Linked DNA regions of Homo sapiens. The protein of the gene in region 3 binds, or shares a complex with, the protein of the main gene of each other region. Each region holds a gene or a part of one and is shown on either strand. Other genes may lie near its edges. The genes, in order: SNRPG, TXNL4A, LSM4 and PRPF4.

Region 1 (7,025 bases), on a different chromosome or scaffold from region 3:
GTGCTGGGATTACAAGCATGAGCCACCGCGCCCAGCCCATAAATATATTTTTACTTGTAAATGTATCTACTCCCTCCTTCAGTCATGCTCCTTGTTTTATATTTACATTTTCCCATGATAATCCTATACATTAAAATTGAATAAGTGCCCCACTTCGTGGCCCATATACTAAACATCTTTTTTTCATTTTTTTATATTTTAAAATTTGAATGAAATTTTTAAAATTGAATGAAATTTTATGTTTTCTGGCCTATATGGAAGAAATTAAAAACTGATTTGACTGCATGGCTTAATCTCGTATTCCACTAAAATGGAATTTTTTTTTAATTCATATCGTTTGAAGTTTCAAATGTGCATTTATTATTCTAAAATATACTTAAATGTTGAGGACTACCCTGAACATTTATGCTTGATGCTTTAATATTAAATAAAAGAACACTACTTATTTCAAATATAAAATACCTATTGAATTGGATATGATTTGATTACTGTTTGCTGTCTTTACAACTTAGTTTTGGAAATAACCAAACATAGGCAAGTCTTTGTTTTTCTCTTGTGACTATAAAATCCAGTCATTGAAAATTAGGTCAATGAGACCAGATGTGGTAGCTCATGCCTGTGTAATCCCAGCGGCACTTTGGGAGGCTGAGGGGGAGTATATTTTTCGAGGCCAGGAATTCAGGACCAGCCTGGGCAACATAATGAGACTCCCATCTCTTAAAAAAAAAAAAAAAAAGAAAGAAATTTAGGTCAATGAAACAACGTAGTATTGAACAATAAGAATGTAATTCACATTAGTATACTCTACTTAATGTAAATTAATATAGTCTAAATATGTTTCATTTTTATTGCCTTTCCTCTTCCCAAATTACTTTGCTTCCTAGAATGTCTAATTTAGGTAACCCTTTACGCCCCCACTCTTTTTTTCCCCTGAGACAGTTTCGCTCTATTGCCCAAGCTGGAGTGCAGTGGCGCAATCATGGCTCACTGCAGCCTCAACGTGGCAGGCTCCAGTGATTCTCCGACCTCAGCCTCCCAAGTAGCTGGAACCATAGGCATGTGCCACCACCCCCAGCTAATTTTTGTATTTTTGGTAGAGATGGGGTTTCACCATGTTGCCCAGGCTGGTCTCAACTCCTGAGCTCAAGCAGTCCACCCGCCTCAGCCCCCTAAAGTGCTGGGATTACAGGCGTGAGCTACCTCGCCCTACTCCCTCACTCTTTACAGCAATACATTATTTTTACTATTTTAGATTTCATTATTCCCATTGTATAAATTTTAGCAAATTATCTTAACTATACCTATTTACTTGTTTATGCTTAAATTTTTTTAATTGGTTATATAATCTTTACCCTTTTCCTTTTTCAGATTTATGGACAAGAAGTTATCATGTAAGTTTGTTGTTGTTTTGGGGTTTTTTTTAATTATTTAATTGCTTTTTACATGTGTCTTAGCAATGTTTGGAGCAACTTTATAAAAATTTAAAGCAGCCAGGCGCGATGGCTCACGGCTGTAATCCCAGCACTTTGGGAGGCCGAGGCAGGCGGATCGTGAGATCAGGAGATCAAGACCATCCTGGCTAACACGGTGAAACCCCGTCTCTACTAAAAATACAAAAAAAAATTAGCCGGGTGCAGTGGCGGGCGCCTGTAGTCCCAGTTACTCGGGAGGCTGAGTCAGGAGAATGGCATGAACCCAGGAGGCGGAGTTTGCAGTGAGCCAAGATGGCGGTACTGCACTCCAGCCTGGGCTATAGAGCTAGACTCCGTCTCAAAAAAAAAAAATTTAAAGCACACAGGACCTCTAATTCACATCCGTTAGTTAAGCAGATTACTTAATCCTAACTAGACAATTTTATTTACCTAATTTCTGATAATTAATTTAACAGCACTTCAGACTTTATCTTATGTAAGCCCTTCCTCACTTTGGCAAAATTAACAGGATTTATCAACCTTTTTTCTTTAAACAAGCTACAAAGGACTTAGACAAGGAACAGTTATCTTGTTTCTTGGGAATATGTAGGAATAACATTTGTTCAATTTATCTAAAAATCTGACCCACACAGTACTTGAAATATATGTAGGGGAAAAAACCATGAGCGTTAGAGGTAAGCAGCCTTCAGCTTGAATCTCACTTCTGTCGTACAGTAGCTGTATAACCATGAACCCAGTTACTTAAAAGCTCGGGCACGGTGGTTTACACCTATAATCCCCCAGCACTTTGGGAGGCCAAAGCGGGAGGATCCCTTGAGCCCAGGAGTTCGAGACCAGCCTGGGCAACATAGGGAGCCCCCATCTTTATAAAAATTTTAAAAAAGCTCTGAAGTTTAGTTCTGTCCTATAAAGTAAGGATAATACTACTTTTTAGGATTCTTATAAATTAAAATGTGGAAGTAAATACAAAAATGTTTAACCCAGTTCTTGTCATACAGTAAGGATAGTGGGTTTCAGACATCTCAAATACTTGTGTTTTATCCCACCTGATTTTTAGTGAATGCTTGGTAGCTAATGGAATGTTTTTCTAAAACTTCTTTTTCTCTTTTTAATAGTGAAATTAAATGGTGGCAGACATGTCCAAGGAATATTGCGGGGATTTGATCCCTTTATGAACCTTGTGATAGATGAATGTGTGGAGATGGCGACTAGTGGACAACAGAACAATATTGGAATGGTGGTAAGTAAAGATACAAGAGTTCTCTTGGAGATTTCATTTTTCTTTTGGAATGTGTATTAACTTTCCTGGTTAGTAACCCCCAGAAATGGCAAATAACAGGCAAGATTAGACTTTCCATCTCCTTTTTAGTTGCATACGGCAGTTACTCAGCTGTAGTAATATCCTGGTTACCTGTAGGTAAGATCTCAACTATACAGAACCTAAGGTCCTAGCGCTTGAAATAGCTGTTGGAAATCCTTTTTGAGCTTTATTCTGCAATAGAGGCTCATAGTTGGTCCTTCATTAGAGCAGTAGTTCTGAAACCTTAATGTGTATATGAATCCCCAGGGAATCTTCTTAAAATGAAGATTCTACTTCAGTAGGTATGGGGCAGAACTTAACTAAGGTTTTGCATTTCTACTAATGCCTAATGCAGATCTGCCAGTTCACAGGTAACACTTTCTGATTTTACTTGTATACATAGTTAACCTGGATTTTCTGGTTTACCACACCCAAAATTTTAAGGTAGCCAAGGTAAAAGTTACAAGGGATAATCACAATGACAGTTATTCACATGAGAGAAAAAGCAGGAAAAAATAAGCACATACTGAGCCCTCATAGGATTAAACATTCCTACATTCATTGGGCCGTAGTTTTAGTGATTGCTGAAGAAGAGTTTTGATACCCAGACTTTGAGTCCCTCTTTGTCTAACACAGGACAACATACCTAATAAAGCGGTAAGCCCAAAGTTCTTGAAAAAGGTGAACCAAAAAGGACAACTTACTTTTAGCAAATTATTAAGCATAAAGACCTCCAAGGAGTGGTAAGAGTTGCTAATTATTAGCCTTGATTTATTAACCTTGATTTTTAAGTTTGAGCAGTAAAGTTGAAGATAGACCTATTTTGACATCTCTGCCTGTTTAATTTTTTTACATACCATTCTTTCCAAGGTTTGTGTTATTACTTATTTCAGATACTTTTTCATTACTGTATTTTGAAAAGCAAATCAATAGTTATGACTGAAAAAACAGTTTAGAGTCTCCAGATACCACACTGTACCCCCAAGTTTCATGTAAATTGACTTGTCTTTCAGGTATATTCCCTTGTGAGCTTCTGTTGAATAAGGCTGCCAGCATGATTAGTAGCCAAGTCCTTTTAAAAACATTTTCTAGATACCCCAAGATTTTCCTCTCAGCCCTTATTTTTACAAATAAATTTTCATTCTAATAGAAGGTAGATTAGGTTTTTAGTTCCTTGCAAAAAATTTGCTGAAAAGGATTCAGGAAGAACTTGGCACCTAATTGTCAATTCTGCTTTGAGAAGATTAGAGAATTATGTAACACACTGCTCATTGGAATTTTATCAGAGAAGGAATAGAGCATCCCTCTGGCAATTTTCCCCCTAAACTTTATGGACTTTATTTTCTTTGCACAGAAATTGGTTGAAAGCACTGCCATCCCAAGTCATTTAAGTAATGATTACCTACTTAGTGTGTTGGGCAGCCTCCTGTTCCATCTCTGAGGTTTATGTGACACACACGCCCCCCAACCCCCAGCCAAAGAAAAAAAAAAGTTTTTATCAGCAGACAGTAATTCTTGCTGCTGAGTCTTCACTTTGAAAAAGAAATAATAACACATCAGACTTCTTTAATAAAAGACATTTTAAAAGGCAAGAACAGAGATGAACTTTTTGACTTTTCTAAAGTTGGAAGAAGGGAAACAAATAGGTTAAGGTTTTGTTATTTTGTTAGAAGTTGTTTAACAAAGGACAGTTGGCTTCATTATTACCTTGTCCAAGTCAGTGATCCATTGAGGCCATTGAAATTACTTAATACTGTTTTATTGCAGTTATGTGTGTGTTGGCTGGGCACAGTAGCTCACATCTATAATCCCAGCACTTCGAGAGGCTGAAGCAGGAGGATCACTTGAGCCCAGGAGTTTGAGATCAGCCTGGGCAACATAGTGAGACCTCATCTCTACAAAAAAATTAGAAAATTAGCCGGGCATGGTGGTGTGCACCTGTAGTCCCAGCTACTCAGGAGGCTGAGGCAGGAAGTCAAAGCTGCAGTGAGCTGAGATCACACTACTGCACTCCAATCTTTGTGACAAAGCGAGATCCTGTCTCAAAAAGGATGTGTTTGTTTTCAGGAGTGAGTTTGTTTTTAACCTGTCAGTTGGATCGTTACCTAATGATAAATCTCAACTATCTTCTGAGACATCCCCAGAGTTGTCAGTGGCATCGCCTCTATCTTACTTTTTATTATGTTACATAGTTCAGGCACTCTTGCTAGGGTTGTCCTTCTGTAGCATCATTGAAGCACAAAAAAGGGAGCAGTATGTAATTCTGGACCTGATGGTTCAAGTTTGATTTGGAGAATTAGGCCTCAAACACAGTGGCAAAAGAGGAAGAGCACTACAATAGGCCTCCTTTATCCTCAGAGTAGGTACCAGAAACCACAGATAGTAGTGAACCCTATGCACAAATTTCTGTGTGTGTGTGTGTGCACGCGCGTGTGTATGACAGAGTCTCACTGTGTCACCGAGGCTGGAGTGCAATGGTGTGGTCTCGGGTCACTGCAACCTCCGCCTCCTGGGTTCAAGCAGTTCTCCTGCCTCAGCTTCCCGAGTAGCTGGGACTACAGGCGCACACCACCACGCCAAGCTAATTTTTGTATTTTTAGTAGAGACAGGGTTTCACTATGTTGGCCAGGCTGGTCTCAAACTCCTGACCGCATGAGCCACCTGCCTTAGCCTCCCAAAGTGCTGGGATTACAGGCGTGAGCCACCGCGCCTGGCCAGCACGAACTTCTTTTTACTTCTTCACAATCTCACAGATAGAAGATTCGTCCTTACCATAAATCTTGGCAGTCTCAACATATGATTCTTTTTCTTATTAAGTCAAGAACTTGTACCTTTTCACTTAAAGGAAGCACTTTACAGCTTCTCTTTGGCATATCCATATTGCCAGCATCACTGCTCTTATACTTTCAGGCTAGTATTAAGTTAAAAAAAGGGTTACTTGAACACAAGTAACCCTTTGATACCACAACAGTCAATCATAAAACTGAGATAACTGATTAATGGGCAGCATGGAGATGCTAGACAAAGGATAATCCACATCCAGGGACAGTATGAGGTATCATCACACTGCTAAGAACAGCATGCAGTGTAAAACTTACGGATGTCTGTTGCTGGGACTATGCATTTAATGTTTTTGGACCACAGATAAGGTGGGACAAAGTTCACCATTTAGCCTTATTTTCTAAATATTATGTGACAAGACAAATATGTAAATTTAGCAGGGAGCTAGGCAGGAAGGCTAGCTTTTCTTGCTTTGGTCAATGAGATGTGATGTTCAATATCTGTTGCCAAAAAAAAAATTGAGAATTTAAAATTCTGATAACTGGCCAGGTACAGTGGCTCACACCTGTAATCCCAGCACTTTGGGAGGCCAAGGCAGGAGGATCACTTGAGACTAGGAGTTTGAGATAAGCCTGGGCAACATGGTGAGACCCTGTCTCTACAGAAAATTTTAAAATTAGCCCAGCTTGGTGGCTCATGCCTCTGGTCCCAGCTACTTGAGAGGCTGAAGTGGGAGGATCACTTGAGCCCAGGAGGTCAAGGCTGCAGTTAGCTGTGATTGAACCACTGCATTCCAGCTTGGGTGACAGAGCAAGACCCTGTTTCAAAAAAAATAATAATTAAAATGAAAATAAAATTCTGATAACTAGGTAAGCATGTTTCTACTCCTGGCTTATGCTGGGCATGGTGATGTGCGCCTATAGTCCCAGCTACTCAGGAGGCAGAGGCAGGAGAACCACTTGAGCCTAGGAGTTCGAGGATGCAGTGTGCAGTGATTGTGCATGTGAATAGCCACTGCACTGCAGCCTGGTCAGCATAGCTAGTCCCAGTCTCAAAAAAATGGAGGGGAGCTCTGTTAACTTAGAAGAAGAGTGTCAATCTTTAGACTCTTTCAGTTCCCATTGTCATTTTCAGGGCACTGTGTTTACTGGTTTTTGTTGTTGGTTTGAGATAAGGTCTCACTCTGTCACCGAGGCCGGAGTGCAGTAGCATGGAGCTTGGTTCACTGTGGTCTCAACCTCCCTGGGCTCAGTTGATCCTTCCACCTCAGCCTCCCGAGTAGCTGGAACCACAGGTGTGCACCACCACCCTCAGCTAATTTTTGTATTTTTGTAGAGACAGGGTTTTACCATGTTGCCCAGGCTGGTCTCAAACTCCTGGGCTCAAGCTATCTGCCCACCTGGGCCTCTCAAAATGCTGAGATTATAGGCGTGAGCCACCATGCCCAGCCATTCTTTTTTAAATCTGCTCTTTACTACCTTATCATACTCATTGCTGATAATTGGCTGCCA
Region 2 (7,182 bases), on a different chromosome or scaffold from region 3:
GACAAGCTATCGATTTACATTACCATGGCGAAATTTTAACAGGAACACCTTAGGGCAGAAATCTTGGAGCTCACCAGGAATTTCCTTGTGGGCAAAATATGGGGGAGGCGTGTAGGTTATCATCTTGCAGCCCTCTTATTTAGGAACCAAAAGGGGAGGCAGGTTTGCCTGACCCAGTTCCCAGCTTAACTTTTCCCTTTGGCTTAATGAGTTTGGGGTCACAAGATTTATTTTCCTTTCACAGTATGTAAGCCCTGGGTCTGGGAAGGCCCTGGGCCTGGGGGTGATGGTTGGGAAACCACCACCTTGTCTCACCACTGCCAGAGACACAGATGTGGCTTCTGTACATAAGTCCCTATTAAATGTTTCTCTCTAAAGAACTAGATTTGCCAGTCCCTTTCTTTGGCGTCTCAGCTTCCTCTGACTTTGGGGCAGATTTGTATAGGCCTGGCCACTGAGGAACAGTCACTAACCATTAGGAAAAGGCAAATGAAAACCACCTTATCATTTTATACCTACCAGTATGACCATAATACAAGGCTGTGAAAGGAAAGTATCTTGGGTCCCTTCAACCTGCCTCCCATTCTAGTCAGTCATCCCTCTGCTCACTGAGACAGATGCACAGCTGACTGTCTCCTTTGGAAAGGCTGATCAGAAACTCACAAGAATGCAACTGTTCATCTCTCACATATCTGTGACCTGGAAGCCCCCTTCCCGCTTTGAGTCTTCCTGTCCTTGCTTCAAGTTGTCCCGCCTTTCCAGACTGAACCAATGTTCTTCTTACATATATTGATTGATGTCTCATGCCTCCCTAAAATGTATAAAACTAAGCTGTGCCCCGACCACCTCGGGCACATATCATCAGGACCTCCTGAGGCAGTGTCATGGATGCATCCTCAACCTTGGAAAAATAAACTTTCTAAATTAATTGAGACCTGTCTCAGATTTTTGGGGTTCACGAGGTACATAAATAACAAGCATGGGCAAGAATGTGGAAAAACTGAAACCCTCACACATTCCTGGTGAGAATGTAAAATGGTGTAGCCAATTTGGAAAACAATTTAGCAATACTTAAAAATGTTAAACAGTTACCACATGAAAACTTAAGTCCACACAAAAGCTTGTACATGAATGTTCATAGCAGCATTACTCATAATAGTAAAAAAATGCAAACAACCCAAATGTCAATCAACTGATGGATAAAATGTAGTATATCCATATAATGGAATAGTTTCTAATTTTTTGTTTTATTTAATGAAATATTCATCAGCAATTAAAAAGAACTAGCTGTTGATGTCTGCTACAATATGGACCTTGAGAACATTATGTTAAATGAAAGCAGTCACAAACGACTCCATATTTTGTGTTTCCATCTATATGAAATGTCTAGAATAGGTAAATCTATAGAGGCAGAAAATAGATTAGTGATTGCCAGGGGCTGAGGGAATGGGAGGGAAATGGGAAATGACTGTTAATGGGTATAGGTTTTCTTTTCGGGGTGATAACATTCTCCTAAAATTAGATTGTGGTATTGGTTCCACAACACTGAAAAACCATCTCACCTTCAATTGGTGAATTTTATAGTATATGGATTAGATCTCAACAAAAGTTTTTTTTTTTTTTTTTTTTTGAGACGGAGTCTGGCTCTGTCGCCCAGGCTGGAGTGCAGTGGTACAATCTCGGCTCACTGCAAGCTCCGCCTCCCGGGTTCACGCCATTCTCCTGCCTCAGCCTCCCGAGTAGCTGGGACTACAGGCGCCCGCCACCGCGCCCGGCTAATTTTTTTTTTGTATTTTTAGTAGAGACGGGGTTTCACCGTGTTAGCCAGGATGGTCTCGATCTCCTGACCTCGTGATCCGCCCGCCTCGGCCTCCCAAAGTGCTGGGATTACAGGCGTGAGCCACCGCGCCCGGCCAAAAGTTTTTATTAAAGAAAAGATTTATCTGGAGATGGATAGTGGTGATGGTTGCATAATATGAATGTACTTAATGTCCTTAAAAATTAAGGCGATAAATCTTGTTATAAGTAACACAATAAAAAATGAGTTTCAATAAATTATTTGGGGACATTTGAGTCTTATGCCTTAGCTTGGAACAACTCTCCTGTGAATAAAATGCTTGTGATGTGTTAAGCAACTGTGTTTGTATCTGAAATGAGTGACTACCAAAATGACGGTAAGGAATTTTTTAGAAGGCAATAGCCTGACCTTAGTAAGGGCTCAGATTTCTCCAGTGTGTACCTGGTGCCAATGAAGTACAGGAGATTTTGTTTTATCATCCCATCTCATGGATGAGGAAACTGAAGTTTGTTGAGATAACTTATGCAAGGCACAGATGAACCTGAACACGCCTTTATGTAACTAAAACCCTCACTGTTAACCACTATGCTTATATTCTGTGCCTCTGCTTTACTCAATTATAAAATGAAAGAGATTTAGATGATCTCTAATATCCTACCAACCTGAAATTGTTTCATTACAATAAAGCATTTCGTATATAATTGGGAAATATTCTGTATTATGTAAAAAGCTTAATCTGGCAGTGAGCTGCACTTGTGATTCTAGTATTTAAATTGTGGGTGCATATTATCAAAGCACCTTATGGTGCTGTGTCCCAGAGGAAACCAAACATGGAACCCATTTCAATCCCCATGCCAGCAGGCTCTTCAGACTGTAGTTCTCACCATGCCACAGCCCATCTGAGAGACACCACAGCATCTGCATAGTGATTTGTTGTTGTTTTTGAGATGGAGTCTCACTCTGTCACCCAGGCTGGAGTGAAGTGGTGCGATCTCAGCTCACTGCAACCTCCACCCCCTGGGTTCAAGCGATTCTCCTGCCTCAGCCTCCCTAGTAGCTGGGATTATAGGCGGGCGCCACCATGCCCGGGTAATTTTTTGTATTTTTAGTAGAGACGGGGTTTCACCATGTTGGCCAGACTGGTCTTGAACTCCCGACCATAGGCGATCCGCCGGCCTCGGCCTCCCAAAGTGCTGGGATTACAGGCGTGAGCCACCGCGCCCGGGCGTGATTTGTTTTAAATTTGTCATCTAAAGGACCACCAGGATAGCTAGATAGTAGACAAGAGTTTTACTATCAATATCAGTTTGCAAACCAGGGAGTCTCCAGCATGAACCCAAAGTGCTCTCTCAGAAGAACAGAGGTTAGAGGTTTTATTTTAAAAAGAGAAATATTAACTTATTTCTCTTTGAGAAAGTTCACTGGCACTAGTAAGGGTTTGGGGAGCTCTGACTGGTGAGCGAAGCCAGGGGGCCAGATCAGTCCTGGAGGTGGAAGTTATGCTGAAGCTATGGAATAAAACTGGCTTTAGGTCGGGCGCGGTGGCTTCTTCCTGTAATTTCAGCGCTTTGGGAGGCCGAGGCGGGCAGATCACTTGAGGTCAGGAGTTCAAGACCAGCCTGGCCAACATGGTTAAACCCCGTCTCTACTAAGTACAAAAAAACACTAGCCGGGCTGGCGCCTTGTAGTCCCAGCTTATGGGGAGGCGGAGGCAGGAGAAGCGCTTGACCCCGGGAGGCGGAGGCTGCAGTGGGCCAAGATCACGTCACTGCACGTCTCAAAAAAAAATTTTTTTTCTTTATAAAAAGACAAATTAAAAAACCTGGTTTCAGGTTACAACAGGCAGCTCAGCAGCCGGCCTGATGGTGACATTCCTCAAGGACGGCCTGCCCAGTGCTTCCTCCCTACCCCGCTGCTCGACTCTGCTGTGGTTGGGTATGGCAACAACGACACATTTTTATGATCAAGTTTCACAAATGACACACATGAACTGTCTTAGTAACACACAGAAACAAGCACCAGAAAGGAAGAAAACGAGCCGCAGTGCCGGGCATTCCGGGCCTTTCTGGACGTCCCCATCCGTGGCTGGAGGACAGCCCGGGCGGCGGCGGGCGGCCTCGGGGCGGGAGCGTGGGGGCAGGGCACGGCGAGCCCGGGGCTTCTCAGGACCACCAGGCCGCCTGGACGCTGGGGAGGAACCCCCACTCCGACAGCTGCTATGACGGAACCAACGGCGCTCCACGGTGCCCAGGTCGCCGCCGCTCCACCCGGCCAACTACACGTTCGCGCGGCGCCTATACGCACATGCCGTCAGCACGCACGGCGCTAGCGCGCGCGCATGCCGTCAGCACGCACGGCGTCGGTGCGTGCGCGCCCAGACGTTCTGCCGGGTGGCAGTCCCAGCGGAGTTTGCGTGTGCGGGCGGGACCGGATTTCGTCCGTGGGCCCGGGGGCGGCGGGGGCCGGGGAGTGAGGGGCCGGCTGAGCCCACCTCGCTGGGCCCTCCCTGGCGCCCCGCCTTGGGCGGCGGCGAGCGCGCGGGCCGCCATGTCGTACATGCTCCCGCACCTGCACAACGGCTGGCAGGTGGACCAGGCCATCCTCTCGGAGGAGGACCGCGTGGTCGTCATCCGCTTCGGCCACGACTGGGATCCTACGTGCATGAAGATGGACGAGGTCCTGTACAGCATCGCCGAGAAGGTAGCGCGCCGGACTCTCCCGCTCTGCGGGCTGTGCTTCCGCATCTGCCCCGCGCCTCTGCCCTGCCGGCGTCGCCTGGGGGCGCGAGCTGTTCCCCGAGGAGGGGCCGCGGCTCCGTCGTTCAGGCGATTCCTCCCCTCGCTGCGGTCGAGCGCTCTCGGGGACTGTGCCGGCGTTTCACGCCTTTTTCTGCGGGGAGCTCTTGTAGTTTTTCATATTTTAAAGGGTTTATGATCCCCCTCCTCTCAAATGAATTAATTATTTCTGTTGATAAGGCGTTTTTCCCAAACTTATAGTTCAGTGAACAAAATGCACTTGCAGGTTTTATTGAGAGCGCGGATCCTTAATTTAAAAGGACGTCTTTTTTTGGTACCTGAGTTATTCGTTGTATGCATAAAGCAGGACTTTCATGTTCATAGCATGAGAAATCCTGCTTTTCTGTGGGTGTGTTTTTTTATCCCACCACGCTTTTTGTGAGTCATGTGGTTTACAGCTTACAGTGATTGAGGTGCAGTAAACATCAGGAGAAAATAGAAATATGCTTTGTTAGAATTAGTTCTCTGAATTTCTAATATTAGTACACTGAGTGGTCTTGGCATTTACTTGCTGACAATAAAAGTTGTAGGACACTATTTTATAACCAGATTTCATTCTTTTTCTGTGGTTCCTCATAGCAATTTTAGGATGACTTTTATTGAGGTTTTGCAGCTGTAGCAATAGGGCAAAGGGCACAAATACTAGGGTGTTAATAAAATATTTGCCATATTAATTTTCCATAAGTAATTTGAGAGGTTATTCCTTTTAATGAAGAGTAAAAGTAACATTGAAGCTATCTTTTCTTTCACAGATGCTAAAAAGTAGGCCTGGGTTAAAATAACTCCTTTGAGTAAAGAGTAACAGATGTAAGGACATATTTTATATTCAGGAAAGGAAAGACTATCTGGCCTGCCATTTATTAATTTTTGCTATTTCTTATTTAGTAGGAGAGGCATGAAGTTAGGAACTGTTGTTATATTTTAGTTATTACAAGACTCCCTTGGAGTGCTTACTAGAATGCATCTGTGATTCTGATTCTATGGGTATGGGGTGAAGTCCAGCAATGGCTTTTTAAAGAAGCCCCTCAGGGAATTCTGATGCGACTTGACCTTGAACCACCTTCCATGGGGGTCAGGGATGGAGGTGGAGTAGCTTTAGTACCAGCCATCTCGCAGCCTCTTCCTCCTGGACACTGAGGACTTGAGGAGGGACCTAGGGAATTCGGGAGAGCAGCAGTTCTCTCACACGCTGGGGGTTCTGCCAGCCGGGGATTAGAGATGATGAGAGAGGCAGTGCCACACATCAGTTTGTCATTGCTTGAGCTGTAGTGGACAAGGGCAGATACTGGAAATCCAGCGAAGAATTGACTAAGAGCAGTTTCCCAATAAGTAAATCACTGCTGTATTGACTTTGAGTTATGAATTCTAGAATCTTTCACTGTTCTACATTGCAGGTGGTGGCATAAACATCGGGTGGTGTTCAGATCCTGCTGCCGGCAGCTCGAGGCTAGGATGGCTGGAGATGTGAGGGCCTTTGTCTCATCACATCCGAGCACAGCTCAGCAAGATGCTCTTAGCTAGAAAACAGATTTTATGTGTTAATGTAAGTGTTTAGGGTCTTTGCCAGATTTGCTCTTTTCCAACTCCTTTATGTCCAATTTCTTTGTTATTACAGAATGAATCACTGTATCACTAGTGGACACACATAGTGGACACACACTTAAGGACAGTTGAAATGGGCTCACTTTGGGGTATTTTTTTTGGTCTTTTAAAATAGTCTGATTTTTGTTTTTGTCCAAAAATTTGGATAGCTTTATTAATAAACTTTTAATGCGAATATTATAATATAGTTATTAAAAGGGCAAACCTAGGCCAGGCGCGGTAGTTCATGTCTGTAATCCCAGCACTTTGGGAGGCCAGCGTAGGCGATCACTTGAGCCCAGGGATTCGAGACCAGCCTGGACAATATGGTGAAACCCCTTCTCTACTAAAAGTACAAATGCCGGGCGTGGTGGCACGTGCCTGTAGTCCCAGCTACTTGGGAGGCTGAGGTGGGAGAATCACCTGAGCCCGGGAAGTCAAGACTGCAGTGAGCCATGATTACACCACTGAACTCCAGCCTGGGCAACAGGAGTGAGACTCTGTCTCCAAAAAAAAAAAAAGTGCACACCTGAAATGCATTAAAAGAATATTCATGTTTTATTTTCTTCTTAGTCTATGGGCAAATATGACTTCCTAATTCTGGAAGCCCTTTTTTGGAGAAGCTCAACAGAAATTTTTGAAATATAAGGTTTTAGTATAAAGAACAATATAACTATTTAAAAATTTCCCTGTGCAGAAATGGCAGATAATGGGGACTCTTCCTTACCTTGTTCCGAGTTCTGTCTGGATATTCCAGCTGTTTTAAAGTGAGTAACAGTTGCAAATGTTCAGGCTGGACTTGATATGATTTTTCCTAGATGTGTTGTATTGATTTGCTGCTTCCACAGGGCCCACTTGACTTCATGCTGGATTAGAGTTGAGCTGTAAACTTCAGGAATAAAGTCAGTTTGGAAACAGAGCTATGCTTAAAAGATTTCACAGATGCCTAGAGTTTGCTAATAAATGTGGGGCAATTCATTTGATAAAGTGATAATAATAAATAAAGTT
Region 3 (7,025 bases):
GCCTGGGAGGGCCTGGGAGTCAGGCAGCTCCCTGTCCCGCAGCCACTCCTTCCCTTACCTGTGGGGTGGGGCGAGTGTTCTGCCTTCCCTGCATGCCTCCCTGGGTAGTGTGTGCATTTTTCTTGTGTATTTATTCAGCAAATATTTACCGAGTCCCTCTCATGTGCCTGGCCTTGTGCTTGGCCCTGGACAAAGTCCACACCCACTTTGAGTGTTCCAGTCTAGCGAGGGACACAGGTAATAAACAAGGTAATTAAAGACTGGCTGCATCCTATGATGGAAACAAACACCCATGAGGCAGAGGGTGGCCATTAAAAGGGCCTGGCCAAAGGAGGTGACGTTTCAGCAGCCTGGGGAAGGTCACCCCAGGCAGAGGCAATAGCAGAAGCAAAGGTCAGGTGGCAGGAATGGGTGTGGCGGCCAGTGTGGCAGAGCCTGTCTGCCTTGACTCTATAGCGGGCCTGAGGAGTGTTGTGAGAGTGGGTCTGCACCAACCCTATTTGGGTTTTTTGTTGTTGTTGTTGTTGTTTTTGAGATGAAGTGTCACTGTCACCCAGGCTGGAGTGCAGTGGCACAATCTCAGCTCACTGCAGCCTCTGCCTCCTGGGTTCAAGCGATTCTTCTGCCTCAGCCTCCCAAGTAGCTGGGACTACAGGTGTGCGCCACCATGCTTGGCTAATTTTTGTATTTTTAGTAGAGATGGGGTTTCACCATATTGGCCAGGCTGGTCTCGAACTCCTGACCTCGTGATCCGCCCACCTTGGCCTCCCAAAGTGCTGGGATTACAGGCATGAGCCACGGCGCCTAGCCAGTCTTTCTTTTGTTTTGTTTTTTTGTTTTTTGTTTTTTTTTGAAACAGTCTCGCTCTGTTGCCCAGGCTGGAGTGCAGTGGCGCAATCTTGGCTCACTGCAACCTCTGCCTCCTGGTTTCAAGCGATTCTCCTGCCTCAGCCTCCTGAGTAGCTGGGATTACAGTTGCCTACCACCACGCCCAGCTAATTTTTGTATTTTAGTAGAGGTGGGGTTTTGCCATGTTGGCCAGGCTGGTCTGGAACTCCTGACCTCAGGTGATCTGCCCGCCTCAGCCTCCCAAAGTGCCGAGATTACAGGCGAGAGCCTCCGTGGCCATCCCACCAGCTCTCTTTGTTTCTCAGATGTTCTTTCTGCTGCTTTTTGGATGGGACTGCAAGTGACAGGCAAGGAGGCCGTGGGTCCTCCCAGGCTGTGCTATTGGTCGCTGAGACCAGGTGGTGGCCCAAGAGGGTCTGTCACTGGCATGGAAGGTGTGTCTACAAGCTACCTGCCTCTGGGCAGCTTTGCCAGGGCCTTGCTGGATGTCCCTGGGCAGGTCACTTCTGCTGTGGGCGCTGGCGCCTCCTCTGCAGAATGAGAGGTGGGCCTTTAAGGGCTAGCCTGACCTCTGCGCCTTCCCTGGTGATCCAGGAGGAGGTCCAAGGTCCCGTTCCTGTTACGGACTAGAGAAAGAAAACAGGCTTGCTGAGGAAAACCCACGGCTTCTTCACAGTAAAGGGCGACCTGGGCATGAGACCCGTGTGCCAGTCTGTGGCTCCTGTGTTTTCTCTGTGGCTGGTGGCACCCAGTCAGATGCACACCCAGCCGCCCGCAGCCCTCCTCCCCTGCCTCTCCTAGCAGCTGCCCCGGGGCCACATGGCCCTTTCTTCCCCCTTATCTGGCTCTTCCAGGAAGCCGGTGCAGGAAGTGGGCTTGGGCCTGGCTTCCTGCTGGCACCAACCTCCCCTGGGCAGCTCTTCTCAGGAAGGGGCTGTGGGATGTAGGATTCCCTCCCCAACCCCTTCCTTTCATTGGGGAGCCACCCGGCCAGGGTTGAGGGCCATTTCCGGCCTCCACAGGGAGAGGCCTTCAAGTTCACACCACCTGGAAAAGCAGCCACACTGTGGATTAGGGTGGTGGCCAGGGCAGGACTCCCAGCAAAGGCATCTGGGGTCAGGGCCACCTGGAATTCCAGTCACCAGGACAGGGCTAGGTGAAGCCTGTGTCCCATGAGGCACTGTCTTGTCAGGGCCCCTTGGTGCTGGGGCCTTCCTCATGGCAGTACTAGAACGGGCATGTTATAGGACCCCGCACCCAGGCACAGCTCTGCGTTACCCGAGGCAGCTCCCAGCGTACGGGTTGAGTTTTCTGTTTCCAAAATGAAAGTGTTGATTTCCCCCCCAGTAATAGAAATACTACATATTTGACATAATAAAGAAATTCAGTAATGATGGAAAAAAACATCTTGAAACCAGGCGTGGTGGTGCATACCTATAATTCCAGCTACTTGGGAGCTTGAGATGGGAGGATTCCCTGAGGCCAAGAGTTCAAAACCAGCTTGGGCAATATAGTAAAAGCCTGTCACCATCAAAAAAAAAAATCTTGAAAGTTCACCTTACCTGGTGACTTCCTGTCTTTGAAAACCCAGTTCAGGGCCGGGTGCGGTGGCTCACGCCTGTAATCCCAGCACTTTGAGAGGCCAAGGCAGGCGGATCACGGGGTCAGGAGATCGAGACCATCCTGGCTAACACGGTGAAACCCTGTCTCTACTAAAAATACAAAAATAAAAATAAAAAAAAATTAGCCGGGCATGGTGGTGGGCGCCTGTAGTCCCAGCTACTCGGGAGGCTGAGGCAGGAGAATGGCATGAACCCGGGAGGCGGAGCTTGTAGTAAGCCGAGATTGCACCACTACACTCCAGCCTGGGCGACAGAGCGAGACTCCGTCTCAAAAAAAAAAAAAAAGAAAACCCAGTTCAGGCGGGGGGTGATGGCTCAATGCTGTTACCCCAGCCCTTTGGGAGGACCAGGCAAGCAGATCATTTGAGGTCAGGAGTTCAAGACCAGCCTGGCCAACATGGAGAAACCCCATCTCTACTAAAAGTACAAAAATTAGCTGGGCATGGTGGTGCACCCCTAATAATCCCAGCTATTTGGGAGGCTGAGGCGGGAGGATCACTTGAACCCGGGAGGTGGAAGTTGCAGTGAGCCAAGATCACACCACTGCACTCCAGCCTGGGTGACAGGCTTGCTTCCCAGGCTCAAGCAATCCTCCTGCCTCAGCACCCAAGTAGCTGGGACTACAGATGCGCACCACCGTGCCCAGCAAAGTTTTGTATTTTTAGAGCAAGGCTTCATCTAAAAAAATAAAAATAAAACCAGCTCAGATGTGGCCTTCTCTGATGGGATTGACCCCTGCATTGGGGCCTGGCAGTGTCAGTCTTGGGCCAGTTGGGGCTGCCCTGCAAGGCATGGTCTTGTGCTTGCTTCAGACAGACAGGACCAGGCCAGCTCTGTCTCCTCCTAGCGCCATAGTACTGGGCAAGTTCCTCGGGTTTCCAAGCTGTAGTGTCCTCAACTCCATACTCAGAGTAACCTCATCAACATGGATGCATCTCAGAGATACCAGTTTGAGCTTAAAATACAAGCATTAGGGCAGGCACGGTGGCTCATGCCTGTAATCCCAGCACTTTGGGAAGCCGAGGCGGGTGGATCACCTGAGGTCTGGAGTTTGCGACTAGCCTGGCCAACATGGTGAAACCCCGCCTTTATTAAAAATACAAAAATTTGCTGGGTGTGGTGACGCATGCCTGTTGTCCCCAGCTGCTTGGGAGGCTGAGGCAAGCTGCTTGTGAGGCTTGAACACGGGAGGTGGAGGTTGCAGTGAGCCATGATCATGCCACTGCACTCCAGCCTGGGTGACAGAGCGAGACTCCGTCTCAAAAAAAAAAAAAAAAAAAAAATTGACCAGAGTGTTCAGCACCAAGAGCAGGTGGTGGCCACCTACGGGAGTAGGGAGGGTGTGTGAGGCTTTTCTTCCTAATCTGAGAGGCAGGTGTGTGTTCCAGGGCTGGGCAGAGTGAGGAAATGGCATTTCCAGTGGGGGGTGATTGACACGCACTCCTGTGCCCCCTCAACCGCACCGCACCATCTATGAGTCATGGGTGGGACTCAAGACCAGAGCTCCCAGGCGCTGGTCAAACAGACAAATCATGTGGCTTTATTTGCCTTTCAGCTTCCCTTGTCACTGCTGAAGACGGCTCAGAATCACCCCATGGTGAGTACTCAGTGGTCTGGGAAAGCCTGTTTGAGAGGGGGCCAGCCTCAGCACAGGGGCGGTGGCTGAGCAGACGGCTTCCTGGCCTGCCTGTCCACCAGCATGGCAGTTTGCTCTCTTCTCCCTCCCCAGGAGTGTCCACACTCCTGTCATTTCTGCTGCTTGTAAGAGTAATACATACATACTTACTAAAAATTTAATGGGCCAGTTGCAGTGGCTCGCGCCTGTAATCCCAGCACTTTGGGAGGCCAAGACAGGAGGATCGCTTGAGCTCAGGAGTTCGAGATCAGCCTGGGCAAGAAGAAAAACTTAAAATTAGCCAGATGAGGTGGTGTGTGCCTATAGTCACAGCTACTCAGGAGACTGAGGCAAGAGGATCGACTGATCCCAGGAGTTTGAGGCTGCAGTGAGCTATGATCATACCACTGCGCTCCAGTCTGAGCGACAGAGTGAAACCTTGTCTCTAGAAAAAGAAAATTAATGAGGTGGAAGGATCACTTGAGCCCAGGAGTTCAAATCCAACCTGGGCAATATAGCAAGACCCTGTCACTTAAAAAAATAAAAAGAACTTCAGGTTGGGCATGGTGGCTCAGGCCTATAATTCCAGCACTTTGGGAGGCTGAGGCTAGAGGATGGCTTCAGCCCAGGAGTTCAGAGACCAGTCTAGGCAACATGGAGAAACCACGTCTCTCCATAAAATATAAAAATTAGCTGGGTGTAGTGGCGTGCACCTGTAGTTCCAGTTAGTTGGGAGCCTAAGGCAGGAGGATCACCTGAGCCTGAGGCGTTTGAGGTTGCAGGTCGCTGGGTGACAGTGAAACCCTGTCTCCAAAAAATGATAATATTGGCCGGGCGTGGTGGCTCTATGCCTGTAATCCCAGCACTTTGGGAGGCCGAGGCGGGCAGATCAGGAGATCGAGACCATCCTGGCTAACACGGTGAAACCCCGTCTCTACTAAAAATACAAAAAAATTAGCCGGGCGTGATGGCGGGCACCTGCAGTCCCAGCTACTTGGAAGGCAGAGGCAGGAGAATGGCGTGAACCCGGGAGGCGGAGCTTGCAGTGAGCTGAGATCGCGCCACTGCACTCCAGCCTGGGTGACAGAGCGAGACTCCATCTCAAAAAAAAAAGGATAATATTACATACTAACACTTCAGTTAAAGTGCACAATTTAGTGGCATTTGGTGCAGTCACAGGTTGTGTAACCACCACCTTTATCTAGGCCGGAACATTTCCGTCTCCACAAAAGGAAAGCCCATTTCCATCAGCAGTCACTTCCCAGCCCCAGTCCCTGATGAGCATGAGGCAGCTGCCGTCTCTGTGGGGTTGCCTATTCCGGATATTTCCCATGCATGCGAACGGAGACCATGAGGCCTTTCGAGCCTGGTGGTTGTCACTCAGCAACGTGTTTTTGAGGTTCATCCACCCTGTGGCCTGTGTCAGTGCCTCATTCCTTATAGCCAGACGATACTCCGTGGAGCGGATACTTACCACTTTTTTTTTTTTGAGAGGGAGTCTAGCTCTGTCGCCCAGCCTGGAGTGATCTGGGCTCACTGCAAGCTCCGCCTCCTGGTTTCACGCCATTTTCCTGCCTCAGCCTCCTGAGGAGCTGGGACTACAGGTACACGCCACCACGCCTGGCTAATTTTTTTTGTATTTTTTTTTTAGTAGAGACGGGGTTTCACTGTGTTAGCCAGGATGGTCTCGATCTCATGACCTCGTGATCCGCCCGCCTCGGCCTCCCAAAGTGCTGGGATTACAGGCTCACGCCCGGCCTACATTTTGTTTATGTGTTTGTCTGCTGATAGGCATCTGGGCTCTTTCCCCTTTTTGGCTATTGCGAACAGTGTCACTGTGAACATTCACGCACACATTTTTGTATGGTTGCCTGTGTTCATTTCTCTTGGGCAGATGCCTAAGTTGAGTCATTTAAAAATCTCAGCCCTGGTGGGAGGCCAAGGCGGGTGGATCACCTGAGGTCAGGAGTTCAAGACCAGCCTGGCCAACATGGTGAAATCCCCGTCTCTACTAAAAAATTAGCTGGGCGTGATGGCAGGCGCCTGTAATCCCAGCTACTTGGGAGGTTGAGGCAGGAGAATCACTTGAACCCGGGAGGCAGAAGTTGCAGTGAGCTGAGATCACACCATTGCACTCCAGTCTGAGCAACAACAGAGAAACTTCCATCTCAAAAGAAAATCTCAGGCTTGGACTGAGTGTGGTGGCTAATGCCTATAATCCCAGCACCCCGGGAGGCCAAGACAGGAGGATCACTTGAGCCCAGGAGTTTGGGACCAGTCTGGGCAACAGTGAGACCCCACTTCTACAAAAGGAAAAGAAATTAACCACATGTGGTAGTGTGCGCTTATAGTCTCAGCTACTAGGGAAACTGAGGTGGGAGGATGGCTTGAGCCCAGGAGGTTGAGGCTGTAGTGAGCCATGATCACGATACTGCACTCCAGCCTGGGCAACAGAGCAAGACCCTGTCTCATAAAAGACACCAAAAAATATCAGTCTTTTCCTAACAGCAGCATATCCTCAGAATGATCTGCTACTTATCTTTGTTCTCAAAACATACCAAAATAGATGAGTAATTATTGCAGTAAAAAACAGCATTTGTGGAACACTGAAGCCCAAATATCTGGTGTTGTGGGGGTGCCTGCCAGGACCAGCCCAGCTGTGCCCACCTGGCCCCCAGCCACCCTGGATCAGTGGCCACCATCACCATTGTCTCACTTATTCCTTTAAACATTTCTGTGTTTCTTAGTTTTTTGTTTTTTTAAGACCAAGTGGCACTCTGTTGCTCAGGCTGGAGTGCAGTGGTGCGATCTCAGCTCACTGCAACCTCCCCCTATCTCAACTCACTGCAACCTCCGCCTCCTGGGTTCAAACAGTTCTCCTGCCTCAGGCTCCCGAGTAGCTGGGACTACAGGCATGCACCACCATGCCCAGCTAATTT
Region 4 (7,025 bases), on a different chromosome or scaffold from region 3:
TTGCAAAAGATGTTCTGTACTCTTACTTGCTGGTCTCAGCCAAAGTGTGTGTTTATATAGGCACAAAGTTAATAAATGAAACAAGAGGTGGCTTGAACCATTTTCTTGCCTTTTGAAGCTGTGTCATTTAGGTTTATGTGTTTGGCATAATTTAATAAACTGAAAAACAGTAAACTATAAAATGTGTAATAGACAGTTACTTTTCCCTCAGGGCATACACAGACTGCAATTACTAGAAATTATTTCTCTCTATTTGAAGAAGATCTGCTGATGTTGCCTGTTTTCTTTTTAATAGGAGAAGTGTTTGAAATTGAAGAGCATATCAGCGAGCGACAGGCAGAAGTATTGGCTGAGTTTGAGAGAAGGAAGCGAGCCCGGCAGATCAATGTTTCCACAGATGACTCAGAGGTCAAAGCTTGCCTTAGAGCCTTGGGGGAACCCATCACACTTTTTGGAGAGGGTCCTGCTGAAAGAAGAGAAAGGTTGCCTTTCTAAATATTTACTTTTTTTCTTTATTATAATCACAGGGTTCTACTCCAAATTTTGGTTGATCATTTAGTTGAACTTTAATAGAATGTCTCAAATCATGTTAACAATATCTTACTGTGTTTATATGAGTTAGCCCATAATCTGTCTTAGGCCAATTTTTACCGCACTATTAATGTTTCTTTTTTGTGTTTGTTCGTTTTTGTTTTGTTTTGTTTTGTTTTGTTTTGTTTTGTTTTGTGTTTTGAGACAGAGTCTTGCTCTGTCACCCAGGCTTGAGTGCAGCGTCGTGATCTCGGCTCACTGCAGCCTCCGCCTCCCGGGTTCAAGCGATTTTCCTGCCTCAGCCTCCCAAGTGGCTGGGATTACAGGCACCTGCCACCACATTTTTCTTTTTTGTATTTTTAGTTATTTTTTATATTTTTGTATTTTTAGTAGAGACAGGGTTTCACCATGTTGGCCAGGCTGGTCTTGAACTCCTAACCTCAAATGATTTACCCACCTTGGCCTCCCAAAGTGCTGGGATTACAAGCGTGAGCCTTCGTGCCTGGCCCGTTTTTCTTTATAGACTTGGAAGAGGGTGCTAACATGCTCCCTTGCCTCCCCTCCCCAGTGCGAGTTTTGAATTGGATAAACATTTGTTGTTGGGCTTTGAAAATTGAGACATCAAATGCATTCCATATCAATGACATAGAACAATGATAAATGTTTCTTGGATTTTATTGAAGAGGGGTACCATCCTCAGATAATGCCCTCTTGTTATTTGCAGGTTGCGAAGTCTTAGTTGTGGTCTAGTCACACACAATTATGAGGAGCCCCTCTGGTCTCTCTGTCCACTGTCTCATCTACCCTTCATCATCCAGCTTGTTGGAAGGGTTTTTTCTATTACTCCCTTGAGGTCCTTACCCTTATTTACTCTTCAACCTGCTGCAAACTGACCAACCCCTACCACATTAAAATTGCTCTTTGTTAAGATCACCAATCCACCTTTACTAAGAATAGCCCTAGTATACTGCCAGCCACTCCTCCTTGAAATACTCCCTCCTTGAACTACTCCCTTTCCTTCACTCTCCTAATAACAAATCCTCTTGATTTTCCTCTTCTCTCACTAGCTAATTCTTCTCACTTACCTTCTAAACCTCTTTTTCTCTGCCTGCCCTTTACAGGCTGCCTTTTTCTCTACTTGCCCTTGGTGATCAGCTCTACTCCCATGGCATCATTCACTGTGTGTTCTGATGATTCCCAAATCTCTCACTGCAGCTTAGGTATCCCACAGGTACTTCAAACTTGAGACATCTGAATTGAAATATTTCCCCACCTCTCTCCTATACTCATACAATTCTTAGTTGAAAATCTGCCTAGCCTCCTTTATAATCCATTAGCAAAATCTGGTCTGTTCTACTTGCGAGATACAACTCCAGCTATCTTCTTTGCTCTATCTTTACTGCTTTCAAATCTGCACTGTTGTGATAGCCCCAAACATGTTGTGTTAATTGCTTGCTTAAAATCCTAGATTGTCTTCTCATACTTGGAGTAAAAAACTCTTACCATGGTCTGTAAGGTCTTCAGCCTTACTCATGTCTCCCTTCCCCAATTTACTAGAATAGCCACATTGGTCCTTATGGAATATGCTAGTTCTTTTTATGTCTTTCCACATAATTGGTCTACTTTTATTCTTCTGTCTTGTCTTTTAGAGGCTTTTTTTCTTCCTTTTTTTTTCTTTGAAACGGAGTCTCGCTCTGTCACCCAGGGTGGAGTGCGGTGGTGCAATCTCAGCTCACTGCAACCTCCACCTCCCAGGTACAAGCCATTCTCCTGCCTCAGCCTCCCAAGTAGCTGGGACTACAGGCATGTGCCACCATGCCTGGCTAATTTCTGTATTTTTAGTAGAGACGGGGTTTCAACACGTTGGCCAGGTGTTGAACACCTCCTCAAGTGATCCTCTCAACACCTCCTCAAGTGATCCGCCTGCCTGGGCCTCCCAAAGTGCTGGGATTACAGATGTGAGCTACCGCGCCCGGCCTTTCTTCTTCATTTTTTATTAACCTGGATCCCTGTCAAACTTCTTATTCTTTCGTTTCAGCATAGATGCCACCTATTCAAAGAAGCCTTTCGTCACACCTAACCCCTCTGTTCTCTGTCATAGTATGTTATTTTATTAGCCTTTTCAAAGGGTATACTTTTTTATTATTGTTTAGTTTGTTTTTTCCACCAGCAAAGTCTATCTTATTCATTATTATGTTCCTTAAATGAATCCTTTGAGTCACTACTGCTACTATCTGAATTTCAGTCCACGGTTGTGACTCAGAGCGTCACTACAACAGTACTGTCTGATTTCCCTGCCATTATTCTTCCCTTTTAATCCATTCTTTGTACTGTTTCAGGGATCTTTCTCATCTGTAAATCCTCCTGAGCGTGGCATTAGCAATTCTTTGTGACCTGGCTCCTCCTTGCATTTGCAGCCCTATTCTTCACCAGTCCTCTTCTATGTTCTACGCTCCAGCCATATTGAATTATTTGTGACTGCAAGCTCAACATGTTTTTCTTACCTCCAGGCCTTATTTGTTTAACCCTCTGCCTGACATTTTCTCATTCTTGACCCCCTTGACCTGATTAACTGAGGACTCAATTTACATATTACCTTTTTTTAATGAAGCCTTCCCTGATCCTCTAAGCTTAGTTAGATGCCCGTTACAAAGTCCCCTCTAGCCCTCTGTGCTTACTGCTATAGTGATAGGTAATATAATGGATTATAGTTTGCCAGTACTCTCTGTTGTTTCCCCAGGACTAAGCTACTTGAAATCAAGAACTGATTCCTAGTCATCACTGTATAGTTAGCACCTGAGTCAGTATCCAGTACATTGTGGCACTGAGTGAAAGTTGGCAGTCTTCACAGACCAAGTGGTAGCAGTGTAGGGGCTCATTGACTCTAAACTGTATAGAGTAATTGCTTATAGTTGAATTTTGGAAATTTCCAAATAGAGAAGACTGAGTGGGAGAAACCACACTGGGAGTTTAGCCATCCCCACTTGACTCTTAAAGAAGGTTCCTGGAGGGCCGGGTATAGTGGCTCATGCCCGTAATCCCAGCACTTTGGGAGGCTGAGGCAGGAGGATCACTTGAGCCCAGAAGTTCAAGACTTGCCTGGGCAACATAGCAAGCCCTTCTCTCTACAGAAAAATTTAAAAATTAGCCAGTTGTAGCAGTGTACATGTAGTCCCAGCCACTCGGGAGGCTGGAGTGGGAGGATCGCTTGAGCTCAGGAGGTTGAGGCTGCAGTGACCCATGATCATGCCACTGCACTCCACCCTGGGCAACAACAAGACCTCATCTCTTAAAAAGAAAAAAAAAAGGTTGCTAGGTGGTTTGAACAGTGAGAGAATAGTAAAGGCTTGCTCCCATCTTAGGGGAACTTTAATAACAGTGTTTAAAACTGTGTTAAAGTGTACTTTAAAAACAGTATTATCTCAACCATGTTTAAATTCTGATCTTTTTTTTTTTTTTTAACAGGTTAAGAAATATCCTCTCAGTTGTCGGTACTGATGCCTTGAAAAAGACCAAAAAGGATGATGAGAAGTCTAAAAAGTCCAAAGAAGAGGTAGAACATGTCTTTAACTTCACAGTATAAACATGAAGGAAATGAGGGGATAGGTCTCTCGTTTTCTGCTTTCAATGGTTTGTTTTGCTGAGATGTTGGGGGAAATGTTTTTGAAGGCTCTACCATTCAAGAAGAGTTGCTGGCAGTAGTTTTGGTTCCTTTGTAAGTATGAATGGAGCTAAGTGAGTTTTCCAGTCAGGAAAGAATCATGGCATTCCTGGTATAACCATGTAGTTACATATCATAGAAAAAAATTCAGTAGAAAGTCCTCTGCCTGATTTCATCCTATTACCGAATGAATTCACCTTCCTTCTGGGCAGTTAAAATGGAGAAATGACAGTTATAAGAGGAGTAGAATGCTTCAGATTTGACCTTTCTGCTCTTAATTTGCCTTTCAGTATCAGCAAACCTGGTATCATGAAGGACCAAATAGCTTGAAGGTGGCAAGACTATGGATTGCTAATTATTCGTTGCCCAGGTAAAGAGAGCCTCCAGTAGAAGAAAGAAGCATATTTTTTGTGTGTGTTTCCTCTCAGGAACTGAGTGCTGGATAATGACTATGGTTGTTAAATGAAATTGAGGGGTAGAGTAGGGATACATGTGGGTCCTTGTTTACAACCCTGTTGCTCCTGGTGATGGTGTTTCTGTGTCGCAGGGCAATGAAACGCTTGGAAGAGGCCCGACTCCATAAGGAGATTCCTGAGACAACAAGGACCTCCCAGATGCAAGAGCTGCACAAGTCTCTCCGGGTAAGATGCTCCCAGCAATTGTCCCACATCTTAAAGGTTCTTCATGTTTATTTGATTTTTCTACTTTGGCTCACCTCTGGGAAGGTAGAGGCAACTAGAGTGATTCCTCCCTGCTTAAGTTGAGCTGCTGTGACATGGAAGGAGCCATCAGTTAATGTGGCAGGAGCTTACTGTGCTTTGTATTCAGCAGAGGCCTATGGTTCTATTCTTTATTTCTCCCCGTTAATATGTCAGAGTTTCTCTGGGGTTTTCTGTTTATATTTAGCTGACTCAGAAGTTGTGATCCTAAGACTGTAGAAAACATCTGGGCACAGTGGCTCAGTCCTGTAATCCCAGCATTTTGGGAGGCAGAGGCAGGCGGATGACTTGAGCCTCAGGAGTTTGAGACCAGCCTGGTCAACATGGTGAAACCCTGTCTCTACTAAAAATACAAAAATTTGCCAGGTGTGATAGCATGTGCCTATAATCCCAGGTACTTGGGAGGCTGAGACGGGAGGATTGCTTGAACCCGGGAGGCGGAGGTTGCAGTGAGCCAAGATCACGCCACTACACTCCACCCTGGGCAACACAGCAAGACTCTGTCTCAAAAAAAAAAAAAAAAAAAGACTATAGAAAACAGCATGCTGGAGTTTCATATAACTTCATTTATCAATGTATGTGTCTTCTAACAGCAGCAACAAAACCATAGAAGAATCTTGGGATGGGTTAAAACTGAAAAGCTGCTTTGTTGTTCTTTTTATGGTGGAAAAGCAAAGGAGCTCTTAGATTAACCTATTAATGATCACCGTGTGTGTATTTTTTTTCTTTTTAAGTCTTTGAATAATTTTTGCAGTCAGATTGGGGATGATCGGCCTATCTCCTACTGTCACTTTAGTCCCAATTCCAAGATGCTGGCCACAGCTTGTTGGTAAGTTCCATTTTACAATGACATTTTTTCCTAAATGGGGAACAGGCTCAGGAAGAAAATTAGCATTTGCGTTAGACGTCTATTTCTACGTCCTCTTTCTCTGCTTCTCATGATCACACCAAACTACAGATGTCAGTCAGTGCTCTACCTGTTGTATAATACAATGTAGCCTTGGTTTAGCCGTTCTCGCTCTTCACCAGTGACCCCAGAGATCCATTACACAAAGCACTCTGTCACATTCTTGACACTAGTATTTTGGAACAGGTCCTGTAGTGAGTTTATAGACCAACTAGTATCCATAACTCAGTCTGGCTTTTCTTTTTCAGTTATGTGACCTCGCTAAGATACTTAATTTCTGTAAGCTTCAGTGTTCTTACCTGTAAAGTGGGATGAGGTAGTGTTTGCAAGGCATTTTGCCTTGACAGTGCCTGGTATGTAGTAAGGACTCGTTAAACGTTAATTATTGGTTTATCTTTGTTTTATTTTCTTATCACCACATATGCAGAAAACTCAGGATGTGGTAACTTTGTTGTTTTGTTTGAGTTTGGTTGTGTTTTTCTGTGGGACATGGCTATCTAATGAGAAAGGAAACTTAGATTGAATACACAGGAGCTACTTGACTAGGCTGACCTTTAGATGGGTTCAGGAGAAAGCCAAGGTTCTGCACAAATGAGTCCACCTCTCCAAGCCTCATTACCTTCACTATAAAGTTTGATCGTTCCTGCCGTACCTGCTTCACAGGTCTGTTAGAAAGATCATCCGAGATAATAGATATAAAAGTAATTTGTTGAAAAATTTCCAAAATAAGAAGTCTCTAAAAAGTTTAAGGCCAGCCAGCCATGGTGGCTCACACTTGTAATCCCAGCACTTTGGAAGGCCACGGCAGGAGGATCACTTGAGCCCAGGAGTTTGAGACCAGGCTGGGCAACAATAGTGAGACCCTGTCTCTACAAATTTTTTTTTTTTTTTTTTTTTTTTTTTTTTTTTTTTTTTTTTTTTTTTTTTTTGAGACGGAGTGTCACACTTTCGGCCAGGCTGGAGTGCAGTGGCGCGATCTCGGCTCACTGCAAGCTCCACCTCCTGGGTTCACGCCATTCTCCTACCTCAGCCTCCCAAGTAGCTGGGACTACAGGCACCCGCCACCGCACCCAGCTAATTTTTTGTATTTTTAGTAGAGACAGGGTTTCACCGTGTTAGCCAGGATGGGCTCGATCTCCTGACCTTGTGATCTGCCCGCCTTGGCCTCCCAAAGTGCTGGGATTACAGGTGTGAGCCACAGCGCCTG

Evidence for each region.
Region 1: LSM4 (region 3) and SNRPG share a complex: the UniProt entries of both Homo sapiens proteins name them as parts of the U4/U6-U5 tri-snRNP complex.
Region 2: LSM4 (region 3) and TXNL4A share a complex: the UniProt entries of both Homo sapiens proteins name them as parts of the precatalytic spliceosome.
Region 4: LSM4 (region 3) and PRPF4 share a complex: the UniProt entries of both Homo sapiens proteins name them as parts of the precatalytic spliceosome.

What each region holds. Positions count from the first base shown.
Region 1 is NC_000002.12:70,283,716-70,290,740, reverse strand, and holds part of SNRPG (small nuclear ribonucleoprotein G), read left to right. Parts: intron 1-1,368; coding exon 1,369-1,391; intron 1,392-2,548; coding exon 2,549-2,673; intron 2,674-3,369; coding exon of another isoform or gene 3,370-3,480; exon of another isoform or gene 3,481-3,543; intron 3,544-7,025. UniProt on the Homo sapiens protein: Plays a role in pre-mRNA splicing as a core component of the spliceosomal U1, U2, U4 and U5 small nuclear ribonucleoproteins (snRNPs), the building blocks of the spliceosome.
Region 2 is NC_000018.10:79,985,556-79,992,737, reverse strand, and holds the start of TXNL4A (thioredoxin-like protein 4A), read left to right. Parts: upstream 1-4,174; 5' UTR 4,175-4,345; coding exon 4,346-4,498; intron 4,499-5,987; exon of another isoform or gene 5,988-6,100; coding exon of another isoform or gene 6,101-6,136; intron 6,137-7,182. UniProt on the Homo sapiens protein: Plays a role in pre-mRNA splicing as component of the U5 snRNP and U4/U6-U5 tri-snRNP complexes that are involved in spliceosome assembly, and as component of the precatalytic spliceosome (spliceosome B complex).
Region 3 is NC_000019.10:18,313,067-18,320,091, reverse strand, and holds part of LSM4 (U6 snRNA-associated Sm-like protein LSm4), read left to right. Parts: exon of another isoform or gene 1-575; intron 576-2,411; exon of another isoform or gene 2,412-4,026; coding exon 4,027-4,068; exon of another isoform or gene 4,069-4,423; intron 4,424-7,025. UniProt on the Homo sapiens protein: Plays a role in pre-mRNA splicing as component of the U4/U6-U5 tri-snRNP complex that is involved in spliceosome assembly, and as component of the precatalytic spliceosome (spliceosome B complex).
Region 4 is NC_000009.12:113,278,650-113,285,674, forward strand, and holds part of PRPF4 (U4/U6 small nuclear ribonucleoprotein Prp4), read left to right. Parts: intron 1-295; coding exon 296-482; intron 483-3,996; coding exon 3,997-4,084; intron 4,085-4,482; coding exon 4,483-4,562; intron 4,563-4,739; coding exon 4,740-4,833; intron 4,834-5,645; coding exon 5,646-5,740; intron 5,741-7,025. UniProt on the Homo sapiens protein: Plays a role in pre-mRNA splicing as component of the U4/U6-U5 tri-snRNP complex that is involved in spliceosome assembly, and as component of the precatalytic spliceosome (spliceosome B complex).